Linked DNA regions of Homo sapiens. The protein of the gene in region 1 interacts with the protein of each later gene in a pairwise test. Each region holds a gene or a part of one and is shown in the gene's direction. Other genes may lie near its edges.

Region 1 (3,500 bases):
ATGCATTTATCTTAAAGCACAGAGAGAAGGTTGGCAGAAATCTGCTGTGCATGAATTATATACATTAAATATTAATATTCTCAAATCACCCAGCATATAATCCTGCCCTTTGCTCTGGTAGGGCTCTTGTATCTGGAAGAGGTTTCCTTATATATTTGCTGAAGTTTTCTTCTTGCCCTTCTGGGTATTTATCCTGTGAAAAAGTAGAACATTTGCTTTTTGCCTTTTCTTTCCCAGCTACCCTGCTACCTTTGATGGCAAATCCCACCCAAAAGTTGTTGAAATAATTAGTGGGCCCTTTTCCTTCACTATTGAAGTTGTTGAAAGCACTCACACAAACAAAAATACCCAACACTCACCTACCTTTTGTTTTTCTTGCCTCTTCCAAATAATATCTGTTGGAATCTGGTTCTGCAGGCTTCAGCACCTTTCACCCTGAACCCAAGTTAACCCTGAGCATTGGCATGGATTCAAGTTCTATCTTTAAGTAATAACAAAGTTCAATAATAGTTGTAAAACACAGTGATTACATGTAGCATAATTATTTCTACTTATTTCTACCAACTACAGTAGGAGTGCTCAGTATCCTCCAGGAGATTATAAGAATTTTCATTCAGTATTTGAAATTTAAGTTTTTCTCAATAACTGAGGATTGAGTACACCCCTAAAGTTTAAAATAGATGTTGGGAATTGTAAAGGTAGGGTGTTTGTCCATTCTTGCGTTGCTATAAAGAAATACCTGAGGCTGCGTAAGTTATAAAGAAAAGAGGTTTAATTGGCTCATGGTTCTGCAGGCTGTACAAGCCTGGCTCCAACACCTGTTCCTGGTGAGGGCCTCAGGAAGCTTCCAATCTTGGCAGAAGGCAAACAGACAATAGGTGTATCACATGGCAAGAGCGGGAACAAGAGAAAGAGAAGGGGGAGGTCCCAGACTCTTAAACAACCAGATTTCAAGTGAATTAACTGAGCGAGAACTCACGTAATCACCAAAGGGGATGGTCCTAAGCCATTCATAAGGGATCCAACCCCATGTTCCAATCTCCTCCCACTGGGCCCCACCTCCAACACTGGGAATCACATTTCAACATGAGATTTGGAAGGGACAAATATCCAAACCATATCAGTATGTAAAAGAAGTTTCAAAATTATTTGCCTTTTCTTAAATGTATTTCTGGTTCATATCAGTTTTTGGCATTTCTGCATCTTCAGGATTTTAAAGACTGTATGTTTTTTCATTTCTGCTGTCCTTCCAAAACAAGTTAGAATGTCCTTATCTAGAACTGGCTTTTCTCTCATTATGTGCCTCAGAAATTTGTTGGAAACCTGTCTGGGACTTCTGAAATCTAGTCTCAGATGTGAGAGCTGAGAAGTAGGTCATTTGGTTGTGGTGGGTGATTTTAGCCTTATTACAACTACATTACATTTATTCTTCTCCCTTTTTTCCTCTCACTGGCTTCTCCTCTACAGAAGGTGGTGGTGTTGCCATGGGGATGTATAATCAAGATAAGTCAATTGAAGATTTTGCACACAGTTCCTTCCAAATGGCTCTGTCTAAGGGTTGGCCTTTGTATCTGAGCACCAAAAACACTATTCTGAAGAAATATGATGGGCGTTTTAAAGACATCTTTCAGGAGATATATGACAAGTAACTATAGTTCTTTTTTAACTTTTTCTTTATTCTCAAGTAAGCTGACATTTGCATATAGAGTATGTATCTCCCTATCCCTATGATTCTGGGTAAATTGAGTGAAAATCATCACTGTCTCTTAAAGATAAGGGCAAAACTGAGGTTTAGCAGGAGTGAAACAAAACCACTCTGACTTGCTTTTATAAGATAAACATGTTCTTAAATAAGGTCCCCACATGAATTGTTTTCAGAGCCAGGTTCTTTAATGTTTAAATAAACGTACGCTGTTAGTGATAAGTTCTAATTTTTCATGTGTGAGTTTCTAAGTCAGACCCATTTCCATTCTTTCTGAAGCCCATTGTTAGAATTTAAAATTCTGTTGGCCAGGCACGGTGGCTCATGCCTGTAATCCCAGCACTTTGGGAGGCCGAGGCGGGCGGATCACGAGGTCAGGAGATCGAGACCATCCTGGCTAACACGGTGAAACCCTGACTCTACTAAAAATACCAAAAATTAGCCGGGCGTGGTGGCGGGCGCCTCTAGTCCCAGTTACTGGGGAGGCTGAGGCAGGAGAATGGCGTGAACCCGGGAGGCGGAGGTTGCAGTGAGCCGAAATCACGCCACTGCACTGCAGCCTGGGCGACAGAGCGAGACTCCGTCTCAAAAAAAAAAAAAGAAAAGAAAAGAAAAAAAAGAATTTAAAATTCTGTTTTAGTGGAGTCATTTGAACTTAAGTCTAAGTTTATAACAACACTGGCTTCCACAGCACAGGAGGTGAGCATGTGTTAATATTTAAGATTGGCATAACTCCCTTTAGGTGCAAGTGTTCAGGCCAAAATGTTCCTGAGGCATTTTGATTCCTCCTCCTGCTGCCCATCTATACCAAGCCCAGAAACTGTCTGGAATATATTTTAGTTTCCTGAATGACACCAAGAAGTAGAACAGTCTTTTCAAAAATGTATTTTAAAAATAAGCTGAATCTCAAGAATCTGATCTATAGTATAATGAAAACTGAAAAGTGAAGTAGTCATTGGGATACTCTACTGTCTCACTTAATTCTCACGGCTTCCCTGCAAGGTGGGTAAAATTGTTCCTACAGATAGTCAAATTGAGTTTTACAGTTAGAAAATGATTGGGCTAGGATTTGAGCCAATGTCTGTCAGATTCCTGAGTTTCTGCTACTTCTACTAAAATATGCTGCTTCTTGTGTGTCCGGTCTTCTGTTTGGGACAAGCAGATGATATCCCTAACAAAATCAATTTTCTTTATTATTATTCTCTTTTACCTTTTGTTTCCCAGGCAGTACAAGTCCCAGTTTGAAGCTCAAAAGATCTGGTATGAGCATAGGCTCATCGACGACATGGTGGCCCAAGCTATGAAATCAGAGGGAGGCTTCATCTGGGCCTGTAAAAACTATGATGGTGACGTGCAGTCGGACTCTGTGGCCCAAGGTACAGAGGTGGAGCCTGGCCTGTAGGAACAGGGTCATTCCAGGGTAGTTCTCTAATTTGGGAAGGGGAGTTTTGTAGTCCTTTGTTGTAAAATCTTGGAATGTTAAACCTCCAGGTCCACCGTCTTACCTGACAGCTAAGGAAATTAAGCTCAGACTAGAGAAATGATTTACTCAAGACCACATGGGAAGTAAATTAGTGGATTGACACTCCTGGCTCCAGTGTCACTCCTTGAAGTTTTAAAGCCTACCTGATCTGAAAATCACTCCCTTTCCCTGCCCTCCTTGTCCTTTGGTGAAAATGTAAAAAACCAGGGCACTCAGGCAAGGAGGGATAAAGTGAGGAGCTTGATCATGTCATAACCAAGCTTTGGTGCCTGCAAAGCTCATTTATTGGGCAGCAGGACCTACTCATGTCCCTCT
Region 2 (2,166 bases), on another chromosome or scaffold:
AATGACTTAAGTGTACATCTGTTCTTGTCTCCATATATTCATGTAAGATGCACAACAAAAGAAACATCAGAAGTTTATAAAAATAAATCTGACTATATGCATCCTCATTTATTCCCTTTAGAACCTAGGTAAAAAATGTTGCGAAAACATGGGTAGTGGCGCATACATTTTGTTATCCTTGAAATAGCCTAAGTAATGTTATTGAAGAACTAATGAACAGGTAACATATTGTAGAAAATTAGTCTTTCATTGTTTTCTTCTGTGAAGAATCTGTTGCTATGTACTGTATATTCAGCATTTATATTTGGTTTGTTTCATAGCTAATGAGGTATTTAGATATGAACAACTGAATACATATTGAAATAGTGTGCTGGCTTTTGTAGTTTTGATAAAGACCATTGCAGGCAATGGAATTGTGCCAGAGAAATCTGATTTCTAGTACAAAAGGAATACTTAGCCAGGGCCTCAAGCTCAAGATACTTATTGAAAACATCCTCAATTGCAATAAAAACATTATAACATGAAAAAGAGTGATTTTTTGAACCGGTGATTTAAATGTATTGATCTGCTTTGAATTTTCAAGCAGCCAGAATTTTCTAGTTTAAATTGGCAGAGTTATAACAAAGGAGAGCCTCAAATATTAGACAATTGCAGTGCGGCTTTCTGGGCACAGGTGTCACTGCTCTGCCACCTATCACTATTCTTTTTCTGTTCAGTTTTTCTCTCAGGTGTTTGCTGGGAAATTAACACTGGAACTGACCCTTTTCTGGCAGTGAATGTAAGCTCTAGCTCCCCCATCTACTATAAAGAAATGTCTTCGAGATGTAGAAATAAGGAATATTCTGAAAATAAAAATTATACAGTAGTAAAGATAATTCAGAAAGAAAAAGCTACCTGTTAGAATTTCCAGTCTAAATGGCACAGGGTAGTTACGGAGAAAAGGGGATGGAGAAGGAGAAACTATGACTAAAGATGAGAGGTATGAACGAGTTGTCAGGTTCCTATGGGCTTAAGCTAGGACAATCAGGCCCTAAACTCCAAATTTGGATAAAATATCTCTTTGCATTCTTCTTGGCCACCTGCATAGTCTGACACATACGTATGTACAGTTAGACTTGCAGGCTGCAGGAGTGCCCTGCATTGTTTTCTTTTAATTAGAAATAAAAAGTATTAGTCTAAATGTGGTTCTGGTGCTGGTGCCCTGTATATATGTAACAATATAGGACCCCTCCAAATAGGTTTTGCTTCTGGTGAATCTTGGTCATTGGGTTAGTATATGACTGTCTATAATATTTTCCATTTGTATTATTATATTGGGGAAAACATTTTTTATCATTTTCTATTAAGAAAATGGAAAACTTAAATATGGTGTTAAAAATGGAAATATATGTGATATTTGCATTATTAAACCCCTTTGCAGATCTAAAGTCTCAGGGTTCCACTATTAGTGGTTAAAGTACTGAATAATGTCTGGGTCTATTTCCATCTGTAAAATAAGAATATTTGTCTCACGTGTCTGTCATGAATAGCAAATGAGAAAATGTATATAAAAGCACTTTGTAAATTGTAAAAGTAGTACAGATGTGAGCTTCTATTTGTTTAGAAGCATAAATGTGAATTATATACAGTTTGAATTTTGCATAAATTTTTTGTGTCTAATTTTAAATATTTGTTTAATCACACTACACATTTTCTGAGTAGCGTTTAAGTATGTATTTTAAGTGGAGCTGCAAGTTCTGAATTTTAAGAAATCTAACATCTAATATTTTTGCCAGAACATAAGCTGGCAAAGTTGAGAACAGAAGAAACTTTCAACATTAGAGTAAAATAGAAATTTTTTCCAGTATTAAATAGAGGAAGCACCCTTATCCTCAAAAAGAGGAACTTTTTTCTGCTTTTGAAACAAGTGTTACTTCTGATGTGTCATTTTTATCCTGCATTTATAGAACGTAATGGTTTACGCAAATCAAAAACCTTCTGACTTTCCATAGAATATTTTTAATTTTTTATGATTTTTATTTATTTATTTTTTTGAGACAGAATCTTGCTCTGTTGCCCAGACTAGAATGCAGTGGTGCAATCTCAGCTCACTGCAACCTCAACCTCCTGGGTTCAAGCGATTTTCGTGCCTCAGCCTCCCAAGTAGCTGGATTACAGGTGCATGCC
Region 3 (4,103 bases), on another chromosome or scaffold:
ACCGACTCCGGTTCGCTCCCACGGCCTGCCTGCCTTGGGGTTTTGCAGGGCAGACGCATGGTCTCGCCGCTGGCTGCCGTGTGCCCACTGCTCAGGGTGGCCGGAGACGCACAGCCCCGGGAGGGGCTGGGCAGCCCGATGCCCCCACCACTCCAGCCCTCGGCGACTGGCCTTGCGCGCCCACACACACACTCCCCTCCGCCTACACCTCTGCCTTCACAGTCCTGGGAGTGGCCCTGTGCTGGGAACCTGCTTCTCCCAGCCGTGTCCCCATCTTCTTAAAGAGGTAGCCTTTCGGTCCTGGCTAAGCACCCTACCACAGAATTTTTGTCGGACATTGACTCCCCTCTTCAGTCAGTCGGCGAAGGGGGACTGAGGTCCCGTTTGGGGCACCTGTGAACACTGAATCACCTCTCACCTATTACAGTTGTTTTAATGTCCTGCCCCCACTCAGCAAAAACAAATCACTCTACTCTGTGGAGGGAAAGAGGAACCCAGAGGCAGGCCATCAGGGCTTCCTTCCCACAGTGCTGACCCCTGCCTGGGCCTCGGTTTCCGTGGGTGGCCATGCACACCGGGCCTGGCCGTAGTCCTGTGCATCAGAGGTCGGCCAGCTTCCTTTACTCCGGTGTGGTGGATTTCTCCACGCATAAGGCAAGGCAGGACTGGGTTTGGGATGGGTCCTGGACCTTCAGGGCAGGTGGTCAGTCACACAGGCCTTGGTGTGGTTGGTACTTGATGTTCTTTGGAGCTAAGACTGGCTGAGATTTGTACTTCCCTTGAGGAATTCTGGGATTTGTAGTCCTAAGTTAACCTCGTGGCTTTTGAAGCTGAGGAGCAGCTGACTGCTCTGATCTCTCTGGCCCTATCAAGGCTTGGAGTTCAGGAAGTCATCACCTTCTCTTGTCAGGGGTGAGTTTGGCTGACCTCAGGACTGGCCTCGAGAGCCCTGGTTAGGTACCAGTTGGGGGCCAGGGATGGCCTGTAACCTCCTGTTTTCCTTCTGGTTGGTAGCATTTCTGGGGACCAACAGCTGGCCGAGGCTCAGGGATAGAGACGGCTGCTCCAGCTAAAGGTCAGTTGTGATGTACATTGCCTGTTGGCACTGTCTAGGGAATGGGCCTCAGCTCCCCGAGTCCCAGAGAGCTTGGCTGAGCCCTGGTGTTCCCACCTCCTCAGAGCCATGAGGCAGGAATGTTCTCCTTATGTGACTAGGCACAGGTTCCAAATGGGGAGGGGACTGGCTCAGCATCCGGAGCCAAAACAGGAATAGAACTGGGAGCTGAGCCTGGAGCGGTTCTGGGCTTTTGGTTCTCTGCATCAACACAGCCAGCATGCCTATGATTTCTGTGCTGGGCAAAATGTTTCTGTGGCAGCGTGAAGGGCCTGGAGGACGATGGACTTGTCAGACAAGTCGCAGAGGTGAGACCAGGGATCATGGATGTGATCTGGGAGATGATGGGAAGCTGAGCAGTAGGGTGCTTAGGTGGAAAAGGAAAATTACTCTGGCTTAGATATTAAGAACCAGGCTGAAACAGGGAGAACCAGGCTGGGGCCAGACAGGGCATCAGGAAACGGCTTCAGGGGACAGGGGTGAAAATCAGAAAAAATATCATGAGTTCGTCAGAAAAGAAGAGTAAAGAGCTGTGGACCAGCTGAGGCTGGCGAGAGGAAAGAAGGCAGCAGGAAGAGAGAAGGAAGGCAACCCTCCTGCAAAGGGTCCAGGGTGGCGGTGGTGGGGGGGACAGTGATGGCGGAAGAACTCAGTGTGCTTTCCAAGAGGAATGGGTAGGCTGGGAAACGGGAAGGAGAGTCAGAATTTATCATTGTTTGGTTTCACCCTAGGGTTTTGAGGCAAAATTTATCCAGAGCAGGAAGGTGGCAAGTGGGCTGCCACAGAATGGCCCCAGGGGCCCGAGGGTCAGTGATGTGTGGGATGGGGGCTTTTAGAGTTGAGGAGAGCACTCAGTGGGCGCTGGTCTTCTGGAAGGTGGGGGAGGGGCCGAGAAATGATACGGCAATACTGGATGAAAATGGGGATCTCTGCAGAAGTAGGGGCACAGCTCAACAGCCTTTCCCCTTCCTCTCAGTGTCCTCGGACCCCGCTTGGGCTGTGGAGTGGATCGAACTTCCTCGGGGTCTCTCTCTATCCTCTTTGGGATCTGCTCGAACCCTCCGAGGCTGGAGCAGGTCCTCCCGCCCTTCCTCGGTGGACAGTCAGGACTTGCCAGAGGTGCTGGGCCCCTGGTGGTGGGGGGAAGGAGGACGTCATCCATATAAAGGGGATCTGCAGCCCCCACCCACGCCTGGCCAGCCAGCTTCTGGCTCCCTTTTCCGGCGGGCGGAGGCGCTATCCGGCGGCGGGCCGGGAGGCCGCCCCCGTGCCGGTCTGCTCTGCTCGGCGCTGTGCCAGCAGGCGGAGAGCTCGCGCCTTCCGCGCTGACGTCAGCGCATCCCGGGCCGTATCCCGGGAGACCCTGTTGCGTGGTGATGGGTTGCCAGGGAGACATACACCTTTTCTCTGGGCCTGGGCCGCAGCTGCGCGGAGCGCCGGGCACGGATGGCGGCGGCTGAGGGGAGCGAAGCGAGGGAGGGAGAGCAAGCTAAGAAACACCCAGCAGGTGCTCCCCCGCCTAGGCCTGGCTGGAGGCTACTGGCGCCACCCTGGGGGCCCTGTCAGCCAGGTACCCAAGGGGAGGGATCGAGGGTGGGCCTCAGGTCAAGGGGCAGTGTTGGCTGCCCTTGTGAGGGACGGGAACGTGATAGAAGAGAGCTGGGCAATGCCGGGGAGGGATGTGTGCCTCCAACTTCATTAAGTGAGGGAAACATTTGCTGGGGCTTGTCAGGGAGCCCTGAGCCAGGTACAGGGTGGAGTTAGGAACTTACGTGCATCAGACTTAGGCCTTGCCATCCTGAGCTCCCTCGGGAGACAGACAAGGGCAATGATGGGGGCGGGGTGTGTCAGAGAAAAGAAGAGGCTGTCGGCTGAAAGCATTATTTGCAGGTGACACTTGAGATGGGCCTTAAGTGATGGCAAGCATTTTTTCACGTAAGGATGGCATTCTTGGCCCAGAGGAAAGCTGAGTTCCTTTTCCTGGAGGCAGGCGGGCTGCTTGCTGACAGGGATTGGTGGAGAAGGGTTTTTGTTTTTTGTTATTTATTTTTATGTATTTATTTATTTGAGACGGAGTTTCGCTCTTGTTGCCCAGGCTGGAATGCAATGGTGCGATCTCGGCTCACCGCAGCCTCTGCCTCTGGGGTTCAAGCGATTATCCTGCCTCAGCCTCCAGAGTAGCTGGGATTACAGGCATGCGCTGCCACGCCCGGCTGATTTTGTATTTTTAGTAGAGGCGGGGTTTCACCATGTTGGCCAGGCTGGTCTCCAACTCCCGACCTCAGGTGATCCGCCTGCTTCGGCCTCCCAAAATGCTGGGATTACAGGCGTGAGCCACTGCGCCCGGCCTGAGAAGGGGGGTTTTATTGGGCAGAGGAGATCAGCAGTGGATTCAAAGGAGGCTTGGAAGGAGGCAAGGGTGTCACAGAGTGGGATCCTTCAGGGCCTGGGTATGATGCCTGCACTAACCTCACTGGACAGTAGCGTAGGCTAGACAAGATTTTAGAGATGTGTTGTGACCAGCTGCACTCCAGGAAAACTGTTTACATTATATCTTACCTCATTCATCCAGCCTTTGCATTTTTGTTTGCTTGTTTTTGAGACAGAGTCTTTTTCTGTCGCCCAGGCTGGAGTGCAGTGGCACAATCTTGGCTCACTGCAATCTCCGCCTCCTGGGTTCAAGCAATTCTCCTGCCTCAGCCTCCTGAGTAGCTGGGATAACAGGCACCCGCCACCATGCCCTGCCCATTTTTTAAATTATTTTTAGTGGAGATGGGGTTTCACCATGTTGGCCTGGCTGGTCTCAAACTCCTGACCTCAGATGATCTACCCACCTTGGCCCCTTGGCCTCCCAAAGTGCTGGAATTACAGGCGTGAGCCACCACGCCTGGCCCAGCCTATGCATTTTTTTTTTTTTTTTTTTTTTTTGAGATGGAGTCTTGCACCGTAGCCTAAGCTGGAGTGCAGTGGTGCGATCTCGGCTCACCGC

Evidence for each region. The genes of interacting proteins can lie anywhere in the genome.
Region 2: the proteins of IDH1 (region 1) and AGGF1 interact in a two-hybrid assay, tested with the Homo sapiens proteins (one large-scale study listed by BioGRID and IntAct).
Region 3: the proteins of IDH1 (region 1) and FAM131A interact in a two-hybrid assay, tested with the Homo sapiens proteins (one large-scale study listed by BioGRID and IntAct).

Annotation. Positions count from the first base shown.
Region 1 is NC_000002.12:208,241,572-208,245,071, reverse strand, and holds part of IDH1 (isocitrate dehydrogenase [NADP] cytoplasmic), read left to right. Parts: intron 1-1,467; coding exon 1,468-1,645; intron 1,646-2,926; coding exon 2,927-3,078; intron 3,079-3,500. UniProt on the Homo sapiens protein: Catalyzes the NADP(+)-dependent oxidative decarboxylation of isocitrate (D-threo-isocitrate) to 2-ketoglutarate (2-oxoglutarate), which is required by other enzymes such as the phytanoyl-CoA dioxygenase.
Region 2 is NC_000005.10:77,063,569-77,065,734, forward strand, and holds the end of AGGF1 (angiogenic factor with G patch and FHA domains 1), read left to right. Parts: 3' UTR 1-1,666; downstream 1,667-2,166. UniProt on the Homo sapiens protein: Promotes angiogenesis and the proliferation of endothelial cells. Able to bind to endothelial cells and promote cell proliferation, suggesting that it may act in an autocrine fashion.
Region 3 is NC_000003.12:184,336,297-184,340,399, forward strand, and holds the start of FAM131A (protein FAM131A), read left to right. Parts: upstream 1-1,303; 5' UTR 1,304-1,334; coding exon 1,335-1,422; intron 1,423-2,090; coding exon 2,091-2,233; intron 2,234-2,536; exon of another isoform or gene 2,537-2,684; intron 2,685-4,103.